2 separate regions of the Homo sapiens genome follow, and region 2 is linked to region 1. Evidence: fine-mapped expression QTL. A gene starts in region 1. The other region holds a variant in brackets. All regions are shown on one strand. Distances are from middle to middle.

What was found.
Region 2: its variant is fine-mapped to the expression of TPBG in whole blood (INTERVAL, PIP 0.98).

What each region holds. Positions count from the first base shown.
Region 1 is chr6:82,362,464-82,365,369 of GRCh38, forward strand. TPBG (trophoblast glycoprotein) reads left to right here and starts at 1,354. Exons shown (of 2, transcript NM_001376922.1): 1 at 1,354-1,445; 2 at 2,160-2,906. The coding sequence starts at 2,499. LOC105377875 (a long non-coding RNA gene) reads right to left here and starts at 1,194. Exons shown (of 3, transcript XR_942738.4): 1 at 1,149-1,194. RefSeq lists enhancers at 787-1,300, 1,301-1,812, 1,964-2,866, 2,867-2,906 and a silencer at 2,835-2,906.
Region 2 is chr6:82,394,248-82,397,153 of GRCh38, forward strand. No RefSeq gene overlaps it. Among named protein-coding and RNA genes, the nearest start is that of TPBG, 32 kb to the left of the region's middle. The variant G/A (reference allele first, on the strand shown) is at 1,554.

The sequences.
Region 1 (2,906 bases):
GAAACCAGCTTTTGTGCACAAATCTCTGCAGTTTCCAGTGTTTTCAGCTTTTGTCTGAGCCATTTTTGCTGTCGGCTTTGCAGACTATCTCTTTCTATAAAAGTAATCAGGCGTCCGTTGGAGAGTTGGGGTCTTTCTTCACACTAAAGGCACATGTCCCAGGCACAAGCCTCAGGATCCTTATTTGATCTTTTTTAATACGACCAGGTCTTAAATTTCCGAACCATGTTTTCCCTAATTGCCATTTTCTCTCTAAAATGAAGAAGCCTGGAAGAACCTTCTTATCCCTTCGGGGAAATTATTTAATTGGGACAAAGGGGATGTGGAGTTACAGAGAGCAACGATAGGGCTTTCAGAACCCAAAACCTGTCTGGTATAATAACAGATCCTTCCGGTAACCAACCATTCAATTTGTCCCTCTCCCCAACCCCATCCTCTCCATCACCATCTGCCAGATGCCCCCTGGGACAATCGACTTTGAAACCAAACTTCTCTCCCAGGTCAGCTCCTGCAATCCCCACTCCTCATCCTTGGAGCTTTCTCCACAGAAGTGACTTGACACACCGCGCTACATCTGGGGAGGGGGGCGGGTCCGCTTTCCGGGAGACTCAAGTCTTTGCTATTTGCCTTTTGTTTCTGGGATGCCTTTGGCTGCCTTTCTCTTCCATCTGCTTTTAATTTTGGTAAGAGAAAAGCTAATGAATCAGGAATGAATCTCCTCTCCACTAATCTTTTTTTTTTCTTTCTCTCTCTCTCTCTCTTAAAGTTGGCGCGCTCTCTTCACAAGTTCCATCACTACCCAAGAAGTGAGGGGGCGGGGGGGACAGGCGGGAAGGCATTAATTACACCTAAATCTGAAGTTTGCGGCCTCAAGTACCACTTTGATGGGGAGAGCTTCTGAAGCTTCCATACAACCTGCCGTGCCTTTGCTGCTGCCGCAGTAGATTTTCAGCTCATTTCTTTCTGCTGCTGCTTCGCGCTGCTCTGTCATGCCTAAATCTATCTCGTCACTGCCAAAGGTGCCTGAATCAGGGTGAATTCCACGAGATTCACCAGCGGTTTTGCTCCAGTCCAAGGTAAATACAGTATGCAAAATGAGGAACCACCCAAGGATGTCGGGGAGGGGGGAGAGAAAGGGATTCCCTCACCTTTTCCGGCACATTCCTCGTTAATTTCCACCAGGAGGAGGCGCGCAGCCCAGCTCCCCTAGTCTCTCTTCTTAAATCCCCCTACCTACGGCTGCCGAGGTTGGCCGCGCGTCGGGAATCTCCCCGACAGTCCTGGCCCTCCCCCGCCCCCCGGGTTGGTTTTTCCCAGCTGCGGAGGTTGGGAGGTTGGGCCAGGGGCTGGGGTGCGAAGAGAGTCGGCGCCCGCAACGCGGAGCCGGGAAGTCGTCGCTACTCTGGTGGAACTCAGAGTTGGTTCTGGAGGCGGCGGACGCGGAGGTGAGCAGTGGGAGCCCGCGGCCTGGGAGAGACCCGGGAGGCGTCGTTGGGGCCCCTCCCCATCCTCGGGTGGAGAGTAGGGTTGGTTCGGGTTGCCACTGTACCCCGAGTCCCACTGCTGCTTTGTTCCCAGACTCTCCCCTCCTCTTTGGAGATGACTTGAACCCCTTTGAGATCCGAGGGGCTGGCGGGGCGCGGGCTGGGGGGCGACAGTTGTAGCTCCACTTCCTGCTAATGCGAGAAGGTACAAAAAGAGATCAAAAAGTCCTGTAACCTGAAACTTCCCTCGCATCCTAACCGGGACCTGGTGGAGAGGTCTGGGCGGGGGCGGAGACACCCGGAGGCCGACCTTCCGCCGAGGCGGTGCAGGAAGGAACGGGAGAGGGAGAAGTTTGGTAGGGAAGGAATTGGGGATTAAGCGGTAAGTTAGACGCGGGAGACGAGTCTCCTCGGGAAAGGCGGAGGGCGGGAGGCCGGTCGGGTTTATTTAGTGTGGGCCAGGGAAGAAGGAAGACTTTGCGGTCTGGGTGTCGGATGCGCGTCCCCCTCCGGAGTAAAAGTGACCGGAGGGGTTGGGGAGGCGAGGCCGGGGCGGGCTTTTGGAAGGAGGTCTCTGGGACAGACTGGAGACGACTAGACTCGAAAAGGCCGGTTTTTGCACTCCGGAAGCCGCGGCAGCCACCGCTGTTCACGCCTCTCTCCTGCTTGTCCCAGGTCCCTCAGAGGATCCAGCGAGGGGCGCCAACAAGAGGCGAAGAGGTGGCACCAGGGCGGCGGCAGGAAGAGGAGCGGGAGCAGGAGCGCGGAGCGGAGCGTCCCGACCCGCCGTGCGTACTTTCTGGAGGGAAGGGGCGGGGGAATCGGCCCCTGAGGGAAGCGCCCGGTGGCGAGGGGGTTAGCCAAGTTCCGGCTGCGGCGCCACTCCCTCGGTTCCACGAGAGGAAAGTTTTTTTTTTCCAGACGCTTCCGCCGGCTCGCGCCCTCCGGGCCCAGCCTCCCGAGCCTTCGGAGCGGGCGCCGTCCCAGCCCAGCTCCGGGGAAACGCGAGCCGCGATGCCTGGGGGGTGCTCCCGGGGCCCCGCCGCCGGGGACGGGCGTCTGCGGCTGGCGCGACTAGCGCTGGTACTCCTGGGCTGGGTCTCCTCGTCTTCTCCCACCTCCTCGGCATCCTCCTTCTCCTCCTCGGCGCCGTTCCTGGCTTCCGCCGTGTCCGCCCAGCCCCCGCTGCCGGACCAGTGCCCCGCGCTGTGCGAGTGCTCCGAGGCAGCGCGCACAGTCAAGTGCGTTAACCGCAATCTGACCGAGGTGCCCACGGACCTGCCCGCCTACGTGCGCAACCTCTTCCTTACCGGCAACCAGCTGGCCGTGCTCCCTGCCGGCGCCTTCGCCCGCCGGCCGCCGCTGGCGGAGCTGGCCGCGCTCAACCTCAGCGGCAGCCGCCTGGACGAGGTGCGCGCGGGC
Region 2 (2,906 bases), 32 kb after region 1:
AGCCTTGGTTTTCAGCTCCATCAGCTCCTTTAAGCACTTCTCTGTATTGGTTATTCTAGTTATACATTCTTCTAAATTTTTTTCAAAGTTTTCAACTTCTTTGCCTTTGGTTTGAATGTCCTCCCGTAGCTCAGAGTAATTTGATCGTCTGAAGCCTTCTTCTCTCAGCTCGTCAAAGTCATTCTCCATCCAGCTTTTTTCCGTTGCTGGTGAGGAACTGCGTTCCTTTGGAGGAGGAGAGGCGCTCTGCGTTTTAGAGTTTCCAGTTTTTCTGTTCTGTTTTTTCCCCATCTTTGTGGTTTTATCTACTTTTGGTCTTTGATGATGGTGATGTACAGATGGGTTTTTGGTGTGGATGTCCTTTCTGTTTGTTAGTTTTCCTTCTAACAGACAGGACCCTCAGCTGCAGGTCTGTTGGAATACCCTGCCGTGTGAGGTGTCATTGTGCCCCTGCTGGGGGGTGCCTCCCAGTTAGGCTGCTCGGGGATCAGGGGTCAGGGACCCACTTGAGGAGGCAGTCTGCCCATTCTCAGATCTCGAGCTGCATGCTGGGAGAACCACTGCTCTCTTCAAAGCTGTCAGACAGGGACATTTAAGTCTGCAGAGGTTACTGCTGTCTTTTTGTTGTCTGTGCCCTGCCCCCAGAGGTGGAGCCTACAGAGGCAGGCAGGCCTCCTTGAGCTGTGGTGGGCTCCACCCAGTTCGAGCTTCCCGGCTGCTATGTTTACCTAAGCAAGCCTGGGCAATGGCGGGCGCCCCTCCCCCAGCCTTGCTGCCACCTTGCAGTTTGATCTCAGACTGCTGTGCTAGCAATCAGCGAGACTCCGAGCCAGGTGTGGGATATAATCTCGTGGTGCGCCGTTTTTTAAGCCGGTCGGAAAAGCGCAATATTCGGGTGGGAGTGACCCGATTTTCCAGGTGCGTCCGTCACCCCTTTCTTTGACTCGGAAAGGGAACTCCCTGATGCCTTGCACTTCCCAAGTGAGGCAATGCCTCACCCTGCTTCGGCTCGCGCACGGTGCGCGCACCCACTGACCTGCGCCCACTGTCTGGCACTCCCTAGTGAGATGAACCTGGTACCTCAGATGGAAATGCAGAAATCACCCATCTTCTGCGTCGCTCACGCTGGGAGCTGTAGACCGGAGCTGTTCCTATTCGGCCATCTTGGCTCCTCCCCCGCAATTTTCCCATTTATAAAGTAGATCTTATAGTAGTATTTACCTCAGACTGTAATGACAGTTGAGTGAAATAGTGCATATAAAGTGCTTGGCATTAGAATGTGGTCAGTAAATATCTGTGTATCAGTTTCGTCCCCTGCCCACCTGATAAGCTCAATGATGACTTAAATTATATACTTACACCTCATCTATTTGGAAAATTATGTTGTTTTTAAAATTGTAATAATTAAAAATTTACAAGAGTATTAATATTTTTATGTAATACCTTTATTACATAAAAATATTTTATTTGTGCTCAGTTTAGCCCAACCCTATAGAATGTGATGAAGAGGTGGAACTACATTATGATCCTTATTTTTCAGTTGGGAAACCAAA[G/A]CAATGAAAAATTAATGAAATTGGCCAGAGTTGCACAAGACATAGCCTAATAGGAGTTAAGTATTTAAGTTAAGATTCCACAGATCTAGAACTTCATTTGAATGGGAGAAAAATTATATCATGAAGTGGTTGATACAGTTGATTCTATAAACAGGGCATTAAACACGTTGATTTGGAAAGCACTGAGTTTTCCTTCGCAGTTGTTTTTTATACTAATAATAGTAGAAAATTTTCCATATACCTTAAGTGCTTTCAAATTTATTTCTAGAATACTGACAGAAAAAAAAAAACACCTTACTTTTAAGTGATGGAGAGGTCTTTCAAAATATCATGCCACAGGGAAATAATATTTTTTCTTGGCACTTAATTCCAAGTAAATGCTTAGCTTAGCTTATGATACACATGTGGTGTTTCTCGAGGACTTTAACACTGTCGTTGTTGTCATGCATTTTCTCACACAGACATTGCACTCTATATTTTGTATAAAATTCTATTCTTAGCCATATATAAATTGCTACTTTGCTATTCACAATTTTGTTATATACAATTACTCAATTTTGGTTTCACCAAAATACATATTATTTGCCATTTTGTTGAAATATGCCCTGCAAGACAAAATATGCTTGCAGTTAGTAAGTATCTGACAGATTAAAACAATTTAAAAAAATCAATATGGTGGCCTAATTCCCTGGTCTGTTATTTAAATATCTTTTCACCTGATTAACCATTCTACATCTGCAGACCTATGGGAAGAATTCCTAATTTTATTCCATCTTCATTTACAGTAGGGACATAAATGTCTGTTGATCTTATCAAATTATTTTTAAGAATTTAGGGATTTTGTCAGAATCATTAATTCAGCCAACCTGGTTAGTCCATTTATACCATAGCCTCAGGTTTCCTATATCCACATATGCCATTCAGAATTACTAAGGCATGGAAAGCGTCTCACAAAAGAAAAACTTTTACATTATTTAAACAGTGTCGTATCCACAAAATAAACGATATGCTGTTCTTGGTTCACCAAGCAAGCACTTTGCCATCTCTGGGTCCCCAGTGAACAGCTACTCATTAAACCCAGATACATTTGGACATCAGACCCCCTCTCTAACAAGGAAAGGGGTCACCACAGGGAGGAATGCAGGCCTGCCAGTCAGAGTCATCTCCCACCAGAAACCTGCTTTAATGAGCATTTTCTTGCTTCTCAGGGCAATCCTCATGCTCTCACTGTGCTCTCAGCAAGAACACCTGGGATTCTTCAGCCTTGCCATGTGTGGAGAACAGCCCAAAAATAGGCCTGCTAAGACTTCCAAGATGGATTGCTAGACTTTGTGAGTCACCTCTGAAACCAAA